2 linked regions of the Homo sapiens genome follow. The protein of the gene in region 1 purifies or fractionates together with the protein of each later gene. This does not show direct contact. Each region holds a gene or a part of one and is shown on either strand. Other genes may lie near its edges.

What was found.
Region 2: the proteins of GLB1L2 (region 1) and SPTB purify together in Homo sapiens (affinity purification with mass spectrometry; 2 studies listed by BioGRID and IntAct, with this or other methods). This does not show direct contact.

The regions. Positions count from the first base shown.
Region 1 is NC_000011.10:134,369,434-134,377,470, forward strand, and holds the end of GLB1L2 (beta-galactosidase-1-like protein 2 isoform b precursor), read left to right. Parts: intron 1-371; coding exon 372-452; intron 453-859; coding exon 860-966; intron 967-1,574; coding exon 1,575-1,715; intron 1,716-1,987; coding exon 1,988-2,059; intron 2,060-2,318; coding exon 2,319-2,397; intron 2,398-4,287; coding exon 4,288-4,375; intron 4,376-4,711; coding exon 4,712-4,823; intron 4,824-5,168; coding exon 5,169-5,285; intron 5,286-5,538; coding exon 5,539-5,625; 3' UTR 5,626-6,891; downstream 6,892-8,037.
Region 2 is NC_000014.9:64,869,908-64,877,507, forward strand, and holds part of SPTB (spectrin beta chain, erythrocytic), read right to left. Parts: intron 2,772-7,600; exon of another isoform or gene 2,415-2,771; intron 1-2,414.

The DNA of each region.
Region 1 (8,037 bases):
ATCCTCCTGCCTTGGCCTCCCAAAGTGCTGGGATTACAGGTGCGAGCTGCTGCACAAGCGATCCTCTTGCCTTGGCCTCCCAAAGTGCTGGGATTACAGGTGTGAGCCACTGCACAAGCGATCCTCCTGCCTTGGCCTCCCAAAGTGCTGGGATTGCAGGTGTGAGCCGCTGCACCTGGCCTTATGGACGCTTGTTGTAGTTGCCTGGTCTTTCATGTTTACAGTATTTTGACTGAATGGCTCAAAAGTGTCTTGCCTCCCCAATGGCTGAGATGAAGACCTGTGGCCCTTCCAAGCTTCTCCCTGTTCTTCGTGCTACATGTGCTGTGCTGGGGACAGGAATGACCATGACAGGGCCCGGTGTCTTGCAGACTATGATGCTGTGCTGACAGAAGCCGGCGATTACACGGCCAAGTACATGAAGCTTCGAGACTTCTTCGGCTCCATCTCAGGTACCCAGCAGACAGCAGACTCAAGTTCCAACTCAGGCCCTCGCTTCTGCTCTCAGACCCCTAAAGAGTTACTTCCTTACTGTCCCACCTCGACCCCAGTTGATCTGCGTGCAAGAATATCCTAGACAAGGACAGGGAGGTGTGTGAGGCTGTTTCCATCTTGCCGGCTTCACCTGTTACAGGTGTTAACGCTCCTTATCTCCTGTGGAGGACGGGAGAACGCCCTGGCTTTCCCCCAGGCCTGGCCTTCCTCCCTGGCCTCAGCAGGTGCTGAGAGCTAGCCTGTTGTTCCTCTTGGTGCTGGGACGCAGGAGCACATCGGGTCTGTGGATGGGAGCCGGGTGGGGAGGACGAGCAGGCAGTGACATTTGGGTCCGTTGGGGGTGACCCTGTTTTCTGTGTTGCAGGCATCCCTCTCCCTCCCCCACCTGACCTTCTTCCCAAGATGCCGTATGAGCCCTTAACGCCAGTCTTGTACCTGTCTCTGTGGGACGCCCTCAAGTACCTGGGGGAGGTGAGTGCTGTGGGCAGTCATCGGGAGGTGAGTGAGTGCCGGGGGCAGTCGTTGGCAGGGAGGTGAGTGCTGGGGGCAGTCGTCGGCGGGAGGTGAGAGTCGTCGGGGCAGCAGGGCCTGGAGCCCCTCCAGACAGGGAGTGTGGGGGGAGGCAGGCCAGTGCCTGGTGGCTCTGGGGTCTGCTCTCCGGCCTTGGAGCTCAGAGGGAAGAGGACAGACTCATGCTGGAGTGTGAAGTGGGAGAAACAGAGGTCCCTGAGGAACAGCGGCTGGCCCCGTGGGCCTTTCCTTCCTCCAGCCTCAGAGAGGAGAGTGAGGGGCAGAGGAACAGGCCGTCCCCTCCCCAAGAAGGGGGTGCCTCCTCCGGCGGACTGAGGCTGTGATGTGTGTCCCCTGCCTGCGGACTGCACTCTGCTGGTGCACACCCCTTTGCCCCACTCCTCTTCCCCGTCACCCTGGAGAGTTGTATGTTTAGTGCAATGAGAAGTCAAAGTAGAAAACACCCACCAAACCTCCGCTTCCACCCCATGTGCCAGCCCCCAGGCAGAGTCTGTCTGTGACCCCACTCCTCCTGAGCCTGCCCACCCCTCCATCTCTTCTGTACGCAGCCAATCAAGTCTGAAAAGCCCATCAACATGGAGAACCTGCCAGTCAATGGGGGAAATGGACAGTCCTTCGGGTACATTCTCTATGAGACCAGCATCACCTCGTCTGGCATCCTCAGTGGCCACGTGCATGATCGGGGGCAGGTAGGAGCTTCTCTTCTAAATTCCTGTGACCTTCTGGTGAGCAGCTCTGCAATAGGCGTCTCATGCCCTCCCCTCAGAATCAGCTCTTACCAGTGTGTGACAATGGCCCTTCTGAGTCAGCTCTGTGAGCCTTCAGGGGGCATTCATGTCTGCTCTGCCCACTGGCCCCTCGTCTGCCTACAGGCACGCGTGCTGCCCTTCTTGGCCTGGAGGAGGTCCCGCTTACCCTCCTCCTGTTGGTCATGGATGTTCCTGCCTGTTCCCTTTGGCAGGTGTTTGTGAACACAGTATCCATAGGATTCTTGGACTACAAGACAACGAAGATTGCTGTCCCCCTGATCCAGGTTCGTTGTTTTTGGGAGCTGGGTGATGGCTAGCCCCCGCTGCTTCGAGGAAGTCTGGGGGCAGTCACTGAGGAAAACCTGGGAGACCCGTGGCTCCTTACCCACAAGCTGTAGGTGGAGAGGGCGAGTGTGGCTTTCTGCCCAGCTGGGATGTACACTCCCATCCCCAGAGCGTAGGGAAGAACTGGGGTCCACAAGCAAATTCTGAGGGGCAGCTGTGGCCTTCTGACAGTCATCGTTAGCCCCGTGTTCCCGGCAGGGTTACACCGTGCTGAGGATCTTGGTGGAGAATCGTGGGCGAGTCAACTATGGGGAGAATATTGATGACCAGCGCAAAGGTGGGTCCCAGAATGTGTCAAAAGAAGAGTGGCCATGCTGGACACACAGGTGGCTATTGCTTCTCTATGCTAGCAGGCCACCAGGCCATGGAGGCCTCTTGCAGGGAGGTGGAGGCTGGGTTGTCCCATACATGAGGCCAGTTCTGAGTGGGCCAGAGAAACTCCGCTGGGCTGTGGCCCCTGTCCTGTTAGCACTGCACGCGTGCATCGTCTGCGTGCTCGTGATAAACACTGTGAACACTGAGCTGGCCTCTTGTCTCCCCTGGGCTGCAGTCGGTTTCTGCAAGGATGTCTGCTTGGGGGGGCGGCAGTGAGGAGCAATGAATGTGATTTCCAGGAATCCAAGGAAAGGCACAAGACCCCTGCCTTCTTGGGCCTCCACACTGAAGTTCTCTTCTTGATCCATCTTGGGAAAGCTTATCTCAGATGTTGGGGGAGGAGGATGCGGGACATACAGCAAACAAAACACCTGTTGGTAGCGTACCCCTCTGGGAATAGGCCGCCAATTTGCTTTATGTTTCCTGGCCTACTAAATCTTTTATGCTTTAATTTAGCCCTTCCTTTTTTTTTTTGAGACGGAGTCTCGCTCTTTCACCCAGGCCAGACTGCAGTGGTGCAATCTCGGCTCACTGCATGCTCCACCTCCCGGGTTCATGCCATTCTCCTGCCTCAGCCTCCCGAGTAGCTGGGACTACAGGCGCCCGCCACCGTGCCCAAATTTAGCCCTTCCTTTTTAAAAAAAATCTAGCTAAATGTGGGTGGTTTCAGGTAAGTTATAAAAAAAGAACTCAGAACAAAATGAATGCGACTGTGGTGAGCAGCACCGGTGACCTCCCAGCTCTCTCACGGTGTCTGCGTTTGTGACGGAGGAAACTTGAAGAGCTCTTATTGGTCCACATTTCCTCCGAGAGCCGTCTGGTGGCCTGCCAGGAAAGCCACGTGGCCCAGACACTGGGGCCTGGATCCTGGGGATCAGGGCCCTTCTAGATGGGCCTCAGAGCGGCATCTAGCACCACCCAGGCCCACACTCCTTTACCCTAGACAGCTCCCTCTCTGGGCCTGTCCTCACTTCTGTTGTTCTCCTGGGAGTTGGAAGGAGCACCAGCCTGACCATTGTTCCTAACTTTGCTTCCCTGAGCCCTTGTTGAGGGTCCCCTGGGCCCACACTGTGGAGTCCTGTCCTCTGGATCACAGTTCAATGTTTATAAGTCACAGACCTCCCTTGAGAAATGCGCGTGCCCACATAGACCCGCACCTGCCATTTCGGAGTCTGTAGGCCCTGCAAAGCCTCTCCACAGTCCTCGGCCTCCAAATTCCCAAGCTAGCCACTCAGCAGCTCTGTAATCTGAGACTGGCAGGGCTGGCCCGGCCCCGGGACACTGATGAGTGGCTCCTCAAGAGGACACATCTCTTCCCTGTTGGATGCCCGAGGGAGGGTGCCATCTGCTCACAGTCCAAACACTCCTAATGCACAGCTTTAATCCTAGGTGGCAGAGATGATTCTGGCTGAGTTATTAGGTCTGTGTAGCTTGGGCCCCACTGAAACTGGCCCTGCAGCTAGGCCAGAACCCTCTCGGTCATCTGGAACTTCCTTCAGAGAGAGGCCAGAGGTTGTTCTCGCCCTGTAACACCTCAGCTCTATATCCTTCCCATGGCAAATCTTAGGGTCTTCCTCCTTCCCGTCCCCCACAGAATTGCTAGGGAGCTTTGCTTGCAAGCGAACGGCTTCCCAGGGAGCGTACACTTCAGTACCCCTCACCCCAGCTTCTCAGGGAGCGTACACTTCAGCACCCCTCACCCCAGCTTCCCAGGGCTTCCCCTCGTGGCCCCGGCCCAGCTGACTCGGCCCCTGCCTTTGGGCTACCCACGTGTCCTGCCTCCCTCCCACAGGCTTAATTGGAAATCTCTATCTGAATGATTCACCCCTGAAAAACTTCAGAATCTATAGCCTGGATATGAAGAAGAGCTTCTTTCAGAGGTGGGTCCCTGCCCAGCACCAGCCCTTGCACTCACAGGTATAGTGCTGTGTGGTGGGGCCCAGGGGTCCCTGGTGCACCGTGGCCTGGCCCGCACCCAGGTGTGAACGCCTCCAGGGGCCAGATCGGCTGGCCGAGGTGAGGGGTGGCACCCGCACTAGAAGCCGCATTTGCAGACTAGGAATTCCCAGCATCCTACCGTGCTGCCATTCTGTGTCCTGGTTAAGAGGCGGGGGGCCTTGGATGGGGAAACGGTGTCAGGGCCTTTTATTTTGCTTTATTGTGCTGGTGGATTGAGAAGGGCCTCCTCCCTCTCCTTCTCTGTGTTCTGTCCTTAGGTTCGGCCTGGACAAATGGAGTTCCCTCCCAGAAACACCCACATTACCTGCTTTCTTCTTGGGTAGCTTGTCCATCAGCTCCACCCCTTGTGACACCTTTCTGAAGCTGGAGGTTGGTAACGCCCTTTTCCCTGCCAGTTTCTCCCACCTGCCTCCCGCCTTGGAGGGCTCTGAGCCAAAGCCACGAGCTTGGCGAGAGTCGTTGGTGGCTTCTGTGCCCAGAGGGTCTGAGAGGGCCGCTGGGGCCTCCCTGGGCCAGAGGAGTGGGTTCCCAGCAGAAGAAACACCTCATGCACTAGGGGGACAGGAAATAGAGCATCCCACCTGCCCACCCTCATGGCTGTCCAGACACAGCTCGCTTTGGTCTCCTGGACCTGAGAGAAGCACGCATGCATGTCTCCCTCCACTTTTGCTGTGGCTCTCGTGGTAGATGAACACCCTTCCCCTCTGTTTCAAGGGCTGGGAGAAGGGGGTTGTATTCATCAATGGCCAGAACCTTGGACGTTACTGGAACATTGGACCCCAGAAGACGCTTTACCTCCCAGGTCCCTGGTTGAGCAGCGGAATCAACCAGGTGGGAGCTTCCAGCCCCTTCCTGTTCCCCATGACGCCCTGCCCACCTGCCGTCCCAGGGAGCCTTCGGTCAGGGTGGAGGGGCGTGTCAGCGGGTTCTTCCTCCCTCCTCCTCGCTGCAGACGAGTTGTTGGTCCCTGTCCCTTCCAGCCTGGTTCCCAAACCCTTTCCTTCTGACCCTGCCACCTCTCAGCACCTCCCCTGGCTCCAGGACAGACGTCAGCTGCCCTCCCAGCCGGGCCCTCTCTCCACAGGTCATCGTTTTTGAGGAGACGATGGCGGGCCCTGCATTACAGTTCACGGAAACCCCCCACCTGGGCAGGAACCAGTACATTAAGTGAGCGGTGGCACCCCCTCCTGCTGGTGCCAGTGGGAGACTGCCGCCTCCTCTTGACCTGAAGCCTGGTGGCTGCTGCCCCACCCCTCACTGCAAAAGCATCTCCTTAAGTAGCAACCTCAGGGACTGGGGGCTACAGTCTGCCCCTGTCTCAGCTCAAAACCCTAAGCCTGCAGGGAAAGGTGGGATGGCTCTGGGCCTGGCTTTGTTGATGATGGCTTTCCTACAGCCCTGCTCTTGTGCCGAGGCTGTCGGGCTGTCTCTAGGGTGGGAGCAGCTAATCAGATCGCCCAGCCTTTGGCCCTCAGAAAAAGTGCTGAAACGTGCCCTTGCACTGGACGTCACAGCCCTGCGAGCATCTGCTGGACTCAGGCGTGCTCTTTGCTGGTTCCTGGGAGGCTTGGCCACATCCCTCATGGCCCCATTTTATCCCCGAAATCCTGGGTGTGTCACCAGTGTAGAGGGTGGGGAAGGGGTGTCTCACCTGAGCTGACTTTGTTCTTCCTTCACAACCTTCTGAGCCTTCTTTGGGATTCTGGAAGGAACTCGGCGTGAGAAACATGTGACTTCCCCTTTCCCTTCCCACTCGCTGCTTCCCACAGGGTGACAGGCTGGGCTGGAGAAACAGAAATCCTCACCCTGCGTCTTCCCAAGTTAGCAGGTGTCTCTGGTGTTCAGTGAGGAGGACATGTGAGTCCTGGCAGAAGCCATGGCCCATGTCTGCACATCCAGGGAGGAGGACAGAAGGCCCAGCTCACATGTGAGTCCTGGCAGAAGCCATGGCCCATGTCTGCACATCCAGGGAGGAGGACAGAAGGCCCAGCTCACATGTGAGTCCTGGCAGAAGCCATGGCCCATGTCTGCACATCCAGGGAGGAGGACAGAAGGCCCAGCTCACATGTGAGTCCTGGCAGAAGCCATGGCCCATGTCTGCACATCCAGGGAGGAGGACAGAAGGCCCAGCTCACATGTGAGTCCTGGCAGAAGCCATGGCCCATGTCTGCACATCCAGGGAGGAGGACAGAAGGCCCAGCTCACATGTGAGTCCTGGCAGAAGCCATGGCCCATGTCTGCACATCCAGGGAGGAGGACAGAAGGCCCAGCTCAGTGGCCCCCGCCCCCCACCCCCCACGCCCGAACAGCAGGGGCAGAGCAGCCCTCCTTCGAAGTGTGTCCAAGTCCGCATTTGAGCCTTGTTCTGGGGCCCAGCCCAACACCTGGCTTGGGCTCACTGTCCTGAGTTGCAGTAAAGCTATAACCTTGAATCACACCCCCTCTGGTGATAGTCTCTGGTCATGTGTGCCACTCTTGCCAGAAGGGAAGGCTGTCTGAGAGCTTGGTTTTCTTGGTCAGGTTCCCATTGGGCCCCACTTGCCGCCTGGGGGTCCAGATGGGGACCGTCCCTGGGGTGGGTGGGCCATGATCCTGGCCTCATATTCCCCTCCTGACCCCGACTTCCCTTCAAATGTCTCTGGATTGGAAGTGCCCTGGAGAGGACAGTTCAAATGCAAATTCATTCTCATGCTGGTGGGCGGGGGTAAGAATCTGCCAGGCAGTCAAGGGCGCTCCATATGAGTTAACTGCGGGGTTGAGTTTTGCTTCACAAACTACATCTGGCATCTACTGCCAAAACCAAATTATCTCCAGTAAGAGTCAGAAAGTCAAGTAGCACACACATCCCCGGCACAGCGAGAGCTCTGGGAGCCCCGTGAAGGTGGGCTGGGGGATGGTGAGCCGTGGAGCTCACTGAGGCCAGCAGGCTTGCTGCCCGTGTGTGGCTGCCCAGGGGGAGTGCAGGGGACATTCGTGGTGTGCAGCCCAGCAGCTGAGCCGGGTCAAGGGCTTATTAAATGGAGCTTATTAAAGGAAAGCTTGTGGACAGTGGCTTGGGAACAACATGGGGCAGAGTCCCTGGTTTTGCCCAAACTCACCAGTTCTTCTGGAACTGCCTCGGAACGACAAGCATGGGGCTAAGATGTGGATGAGACTCGGGCTACTTGGGTGTGGCCTGAGCCACCTGCAGGGTCTTCTGCCCCGCTTTACCTGAGTGTGTGCTTCTGCAGAGCTGTGTATGAGCTGGTTCCGTCAGAAAGTGATGGAATGGAAGGGAACCTTCCTGCAAATCCTCCTGTAAGGTGGAGAAGCCCCTTGGATCACACTTCCACGCAGACCTGAGCAGGACACACTGTGGTTTCCTAAGGTGAGGTCTTCCTACACCAGCTTCTTATTCTCACCCTTATTTTCTGCCAGTTAATTGCTCAGCTTCTCTATCAAAGTACCTCTTGGCAGAGCTTATTCTCCAGCGTTGACTAAAGATGTTTCCATTATCTTCCACACGGTATGGCCTCATCTAGGTCTCTTTGGAGAATCCCTCTTCATATCCAGCCTCTGAATGCTGGGGGTCTCTGGCCCACTC
Region 2 (7,600 bases), on another chromosome or scaffold:
GCATGAGCTGATGTTTCCAGCCTAATTTTTTAATCAACAAATATTTCTGAGCCACTCCCCTCCATGTATAAAACATGGCTCTAGGTGCAGAGGTTTTGTTTTGTTTTGTTTTTAAGCATGAGACTCAGTTCCCCATTGCAAGAAGCTTGAACTAACAGTGTAGAAGGCAAGTTGACAATTACAAAACAAGATGATCCACCTGTAAGAAAGGAGTGAAAAGGGTACTGTAAAAATACAAAGGAGGAAGCAATCAGCGCTACCCCAGGACCTGGTAAGGAAGAGGGGCTGTCAGGCAAGGTTACAAAGAGAAGGCAACATGTAAGTTTTACAGAGGAATCCACAAGGAAAATTTTAAGGATAATAATAAATGTTAAGGCACCATCACAATCACACACACAAAAAGCCCTGAAAAAAAAAAAGTCAGAGAAAGAGGAAGTTCTTCACCCAAGGGCAAACAGCAAGAGGAAAGGAGCTGGAAGCAACCCAGACTCTTGTCATCCAGCTCAAGGAGATTTTTTAGCTGAAATAAAACATCGCATAATATTTACACCCTTCCCCACCTGAGCTTGGGCTACATGCTCTACAAAGCAAATTAAACATCACCTGCCTGTCCTCTAAAAGTCTACAATCTAAAAACAGGCACACTAATAAATGAACAAATTCAAGAACTTTGATGACGAACTATCACCCAAAGACAGTGTTCTGAAACAAACACTTCTCAAGTTCAGTTTGGCCCCCAAAATGAGGATAATAAATTTTTGCCCTTCCCTTTGGAGATGTTAAATACCAAGGGGAAATATTAAAATTGCATGGACGGGTTCCTTAAAAGATTATAAATAGAATTACTATGTGATCCAGCAATTTCACATCTAGGTATATGTCCAAAAGAAGTGAAAGCAAGGTCTCAAGGAGATATCTGCCCACCCATGTTCACAGCAGCATTATTCACAATAGGCAAGAGTAGAAGCAACCCAAGTGTCCATAGACAGATGGAGGGAGAGGGAATGGAGAGTTAGTGTTTAGTGGACACAGTGCTTGTGTTTTGGAAGATGAAAAACGTCCATCTTTTTCATGATGATGGGGAGGGATGATGGTGATGGCTGCACAGCAATGTGAATGTGCTTATGCCACTGAACTGTATGTACACTTAAAAATGGTTAAAATGGTAAAATTTATGTCACATATATTTGAGCAAATAATACACATATACAAAGAAAGTTAATAAAAGAATTTGTGATTATGTTCAAATAGGGTGCATGTATCTAGCCCTAATTTAGCAAGTTTGAAGAAGGGAGAGATTACTGTGGAGTGGAGTGTTCCAGGACGAAGACACAGCCTCGAACCCAAGTTCTGATGGAAAACACTCCAAATCTGGGAGAAATGGTCAGGACTCAGTAAGCAGAAGTGGACAAACTTAGTTTAAGTAGAGGGTTTGTGATGGAAAGTGGTAAAAGAGTAGAAAAAAAGAGACTGGTGCCAGAATAGAATGGCTCCTTAAAAGCCAACTTTATGAGTTTGGATTTCTACCTCTACCCAGAGAAGAACCACTGGTGGCTTTTGAGAAGGGGTGTTATATGATGAACACAGTGGTTCAGTGTGGGATGGTTTGGAGAGGGAGATCCTTAGTTGATAGAAAGTGGACTCCAGGTCGCTTAACTTGAGGGCTACCAAGGTGACTACAAAGTCTACTAAATCTGAAACCTAACACGTGGTGCTGCTAGCTTAAAGCTATGACTTTAAAATGTATCAGGCCAAATGCTTGCACATGAATGGAATTCTTCTCAAAGCATACACAGAAACTGTTGACAGTGGTACCTTCTTAGAAATAGGGCTGAAGTTAGGAGAAGACTTTTACTCTTCATTGTATACCCTTGTATAATATGGATATATGTTTTAACCACGTACATGAGTTTATTTTATAATTTAAAAAGTTTTTTAAATATGACAACCAGGAAGCATCAAAAAATATTTGGGCTTTAACCAGCCAATTCAAAACATTTCTAAAAATAAAGTGAAATATATTTCAATCTTGTTTCTCCCATATCTTAATCTCCATCACATAGTATAAACGTTGTGGGACTGATCTAAAAGTAACAGTACAAAGTACACAGCACATCTAAAGCTTCGCTTCAAACAGATGTCATGAATCATCCCAAAATAAAAACATCTCCTTTTTGGTGTATTTAAATGAAAAGTCTGCCAAGACTATTCCAAGTCAACACCTCGACAAAAACAGAAATTAAAAAAAAATAGCCCATGGTACATTTGATAAAATACATCACCATCTCAGTAAACGACCTTTTTGTTCATCCAGTTGTTCAGGCCAAAAACAATGGAATCATCTTATTCTTTTTCTCTCATCCTCTATATCCAAATCTCATAATCTCTATACTCAGAACCCAACTGCATCTCACCAGGACTATCATCCTGATCCATCCTCTCGTCCTGAACCACCGCAGTAGCTTTCATGGGACTCCTTGCCTCCACTCTTGTGCCCCACAATCAATCCTCCTTAGGGCCGCCAGAAAGATCTGCTTGAGACACAAATCCCAACAAGTCACTCCCCTGCCCACAACTTCCAGTGGCTTCCTATGACACTTGGACTAAAACTCAAAGGTCACAAAGCCTGCACCATCAAGACCCGCTTTTCTCTCCAGCACTGTGGTTAGCTCTCCCCATGACACCCTGCACTCAGGCCACACTGGCCTCTTTGCTATTGCTTGGACACAGCAGTGGCCCCACGTTGGGGGCTTCCCATTTGGTATGGTTTGTCTGTGTCCCCACCCAAATCTCATCTTGAATTGCGGCTCCCATAATCCCTGCATGTCGTGGGAGGGACCCGGTGGGAGGTAACTGAATCACGGGGGTGGGTTTTCCTGTGCTGTTCTCGTGATAGTGAAGAAGTCTCATGAGATTTGATGGTTTTATAAAGGGCAGTTCCCCTGAACATGCGCCTGCCACCATGTATGACATGCCTTTGCTCCTCCTTTGCCTTCTGCCATGATTGTGAGTCATCCCCAGCCATGCTGAACTGTGATTCAATTAAACCTCTTTCCTTTATAAATTACTCAGTCTCTGGTATGTCTTTATTAGGAGTGTGAGAACAGACTACCACTCAACCTGAATCTCTTCTCCCAAACATCCCATGCCTCTCTCCCCACTTCATTTGAGTCTCAGCCCAAATGAAGCCCCATCAGATAGTGTTTTCCCAACCACCCTACCTGAAATAGTAGAACCACCCTTCTTTCCCTTCATATTGCTTTATTTTTCTTTTTAGCACTTGAAATTACAATATATATTTTTGTCTGTTGCTTGTCATTTAGTTCCTCTCTCCCCCAACTACAATGTGCACTCTACGACTTCAGACATTTTTGCCACATTCACTGTTACATTCCCTGGGCCTACAGCATGTCTGGCAAATTAAATGAGAACTCAGTAAATATTTGTTGAAGACTGACATACAAATCAAGGCCCTCAAGATCACTGGACAAAAAGAGGCTGCTGAAGTCCAAAATGAAGCATAAGCACAATAATGCCCAGTAAATTTGGGGTAAAGGAATGAAAAACCCAAAACATCAATTAACGGGCAGATGAACCCTTCATTTATCTATGGCATGCTACTGAGAATCCATTAATTCATGCTTTGGAACAGCATCTGTGCATACTCTGGAGGGCCATTCTTGAGGTTCTGTGGCTATGGTAAAGGGTAATACCATTAACAAGTGTCTTCTCTCCAGAACCAATGAACTTATGTGGAATATTCTGCTGAAGAAAAAAAGCAACCGCGGTCTCAACCAGAAGGCCCAGAATATTCAATTACTCCACTGAGAAGACCTGGAAACAGCCCCAGCCTCAGAACTAGGCAACTGGGTCAAAGTCAGGTTTTGGAATAAACTACTAGAGGGACATTGAGTATATAAATGTACATTTCTAATCCTGTTTTGTAACTGGAAACCAGGAATAATCAGATCTTCCCTTCACATGCTCATCATAAGATAAAATAAGATGATGTGTAGACAAAGGCATGCTGAAAATTGAGTGGACTATAGTTATCTGTGATCATCATCTTGTACTGGCTGGGATCTAATTCACTTTCTCTTCACTGCCACTGGTGAGCTTTGTCAACAAAGATTTCATCACACCCCTTTATGACTTAAAAACTTCCAGTGGCTCAAACTTCTTCACAGGCTGAACCCCAACCACCTTTCTGGTCACACTTCTGCCATGTGGAACTACACTTCATCCCCTAACCTAATCATGCTTTATTGTCTGTGCTGGGCAATTTCCTAAAGCCCCACTCGCAGGCCCCCTCATCCTCCCTTCTTCCATTATAGAAATCCTAGGCACTTTCAAAGGTCTTCTCATTCCCCAACCTGAATGAGATGTTTCCTCCTGTACACCCTCTCTCTCAGGCATCCTGTTGAATCACTGCTTGTTTGCAAGGCCATTTTCGCACCAGATCAGTGATTCTCCATCTGATCTCTTTGTGTGTCTTCAGCACATAACAGTGTAAGACACGTGGTAGACACCCAATGTCTGCTCTTTTTGAATACACCTCAATTCTCTCTCGGGCCTTTCTACCTCTAACTCTCTATGACTTATGACTCGAAGTCAGTATTATGAAAGGCCTTTTCTTGCTTTTCCACCCTTCTGGAAATATACTGGAAGATGAAGCTAATTGACCACTCCTAGGGTTCTTCTAGAAACAGGCTGGGACTCAAAAGAGGGACAGAATAAGGTTACAGACTTCTTTCTGGTCCACATAATTTATGCCTTTAAAGTATGCTTTGTTTTATTTGAATTGCTATACATTCTCAAGTGAGACACGCCCATATTTAAGTCTGGTACAAATGGAAAATATTTTCAAAGTATTCATTTTCGGAATTATTCAAGTTTCTTCTCCTTTTCACAATGGTGGAAACTCCTAAATTGACTATAATTCGAAGCAATTATTGTTCTTTAGCTATCAAGGTGCCGTTAGTCTCTTCATAAATATCCTGGATGATCTGAGCCTGGTTCAATGCAAAGCCTATTTTTTTTTCAGCCCTGTGCCTTTTCACTTGCTAAATTTATAACATTCAAATGAAAGAAAGGAAGCCCACTTTTGCCCCCACTGCTCACATGATATATGCTGAGTTTTAATTGCCCTTGTAATTCTACCCTCAGCCAGGTCTGCACAGGTATGATGTGGAAATAAAACATTATGGCAAAGCCTGAGAAGGGCTTGCTGAGGTAGGAAGAAGAGGGCTTTGTAATATTTCCTGCAACCAGGAAAAGGAAAGAGAAAAATGAAAGGTGGTCTGGGAATTTGATAAGCTAGCCAGACAATTCATTAAGGAAGCATTTTCTGTCTATGACCACCTCTAAGACTACGTGAGCTATAAAGGCTAGGGATCCCCTGATGGTTTGATATTCAGCTGAGGCTGGCTGAAAATGGAAGAATGTGGATCACTTGGCTGTGAATTAAGAAATACACGCAGCAACAGAGGGAAACACACTATGGCATTTTCTAAATATTTACCAAGGGGAGTTGGCAATCCGTGAGCAGAGCCAGATCTGACAGTTAATTCTCCTGACTGCCTCCTACGCTCTTCCTCAATCACTATCTCCATCTCCAAAACAGGTGACCTTCCCCTAATGGGGTGAAGAAGGAAGCATCTCTGTGATAAACCCAGCAAATGCCACATGATGATTCTGGCACACAGACCACTGCATCTACTCTTCTTCCTCAGATTTCTTATCTAAAACAGAGGAGTAACCTACGATCTGTCTGTTAAAATCAACTGAGTCAATACAAGCTGCTTCAAAGATAAAATTCTTCTTTCCACAGTCATTTTTGGCTTGTGATATCCATATGGTTTCAGAACCCAGTATCCATGAACTTCCTTGCCAGTCCTCATTATATAATCAAATTTCTCATCAGCCCACATAGCACAGTTATTTTCACTCTTGATCTTCCCAAGTTCATTGATAAATGTTAATCTGTAGGTCTCAGGTTATTTTTTTAAATTCTATAATTTTAAAATTCCATAACAAAGAAACATATTTTAAATCACTTTTTAATTAATTCATGAATTAGAGATGGCACCTCATTCTGTTGTCCAGGCTGGAGTACAGTGGCACAATCATAGTTCAGCCTCTCTAACTCCCTGGCTCAAGCAATCCTCCTCCCTTAGCCTCCGAAGTAACTGGGATTATAGGCATAAGCCACTATACCTGGCTTTTTTATATCAATTTTTTGTTTGTTTGTTTGAGACACAATCTCACTTTATTGTCCAGGCTGGAGTGCAGTGGCGCGATGTCGGTTCACTGCAACCTCTACCGCCCAGGTTCGAGCAATTTTCCTGTCTCAGCCTCCCGAGTAGCTGGGATTACAGGTGCCCACCACCACACCTGGCTAATTTTTGTATTTTTAGTAGAGATAGGTTTGGCCAGGCTGGTCTCGAACTCCTGAGACCAGCCTGACCAGCATGGTGAAACCCCATCTCTACTTTAAATCTCCCACTGGTCATGTTTCCTACCTTTTCAGGTCTTGAGCAGACAGTAAAATTTTGTGTTTGATTTTGAAATTAAAGTGCTGCTCTTCAAGAACAATTTGGTGATTGGGTTTAGGTTAAAACACGTATCTGACGGTCTCAACAGTTCTCTAAAGTCCTTCCCCATGCCCCCCAAAAATGGACATAATTACTTAAGATTTCTTGTCTCTAGATCGTAATGTGTATAACTATTGTTTTAAAATGTATACATGTGTACACCTTACAAGCAATGGGGGAGATTATAGAACAGTTTAGAGTTTAAAGCCTGAGACTGCCTTCTCTCCTGCTTATCCTCAGTACCTTTTCTTTAAGATTGCACTAAAATGAAAGGACTAGATATTAAAAACACATCCTCTCATAATCTCCTCCAAAGGAAATAAAATCTCAGTAGTTTGGTTAGGCAGAACTTCAGGAAGTAAACCATATTGGCCTTGAGAGTGAGACAGGAAAGAAATGAACTCGAGTAATAAGAAGTGTGGGTGCCATAGCTACACATCAATGATCAGGTACATTCAGTTAGGTCTTGCCTTTAAGCCAGTAAGTATGCACATGGAAGGCTGGGTTCAGTGACCTCCAGAATCCCTTCCCTCTCCAATAGTGTTTGCCTCATGAATTTTTTATAGCCATCCTCTGTCCTATCACACTGTCCCTATGTATCATCAAGCCCTCCTGGCCACTTCCAGGACTGAAAGGAAAATCTGTTCTTTAAAAAAAAAAAAAAAAATCCATGCTTTGACTCCTGCCAAAATTATAGTTCTGTCCTTGAAACAATGACCTGAAAATAATGGGTAAGGCTAAGAACCTCTGAGCAAATAAATGCCCAATATTATCTTCAGATAATATTTTTTAAGCTCCTCTGATATAAGCAGAACTATTACCTGAGGTCCTGGGAATGAAGATTATGAAGCTAGAAGACAAACAGTCAAATCTTCCCAACTTGTACTTTATATTCCCTGCTGAGTGTCTAACCTTAAAAAGAAGGTAGAACCAAACAAACTGAGTTTGAATCCTGGACCCATCTCTCATTAGCTGGGTAATATGAGGCAAGTTATTTAATCTTCCTG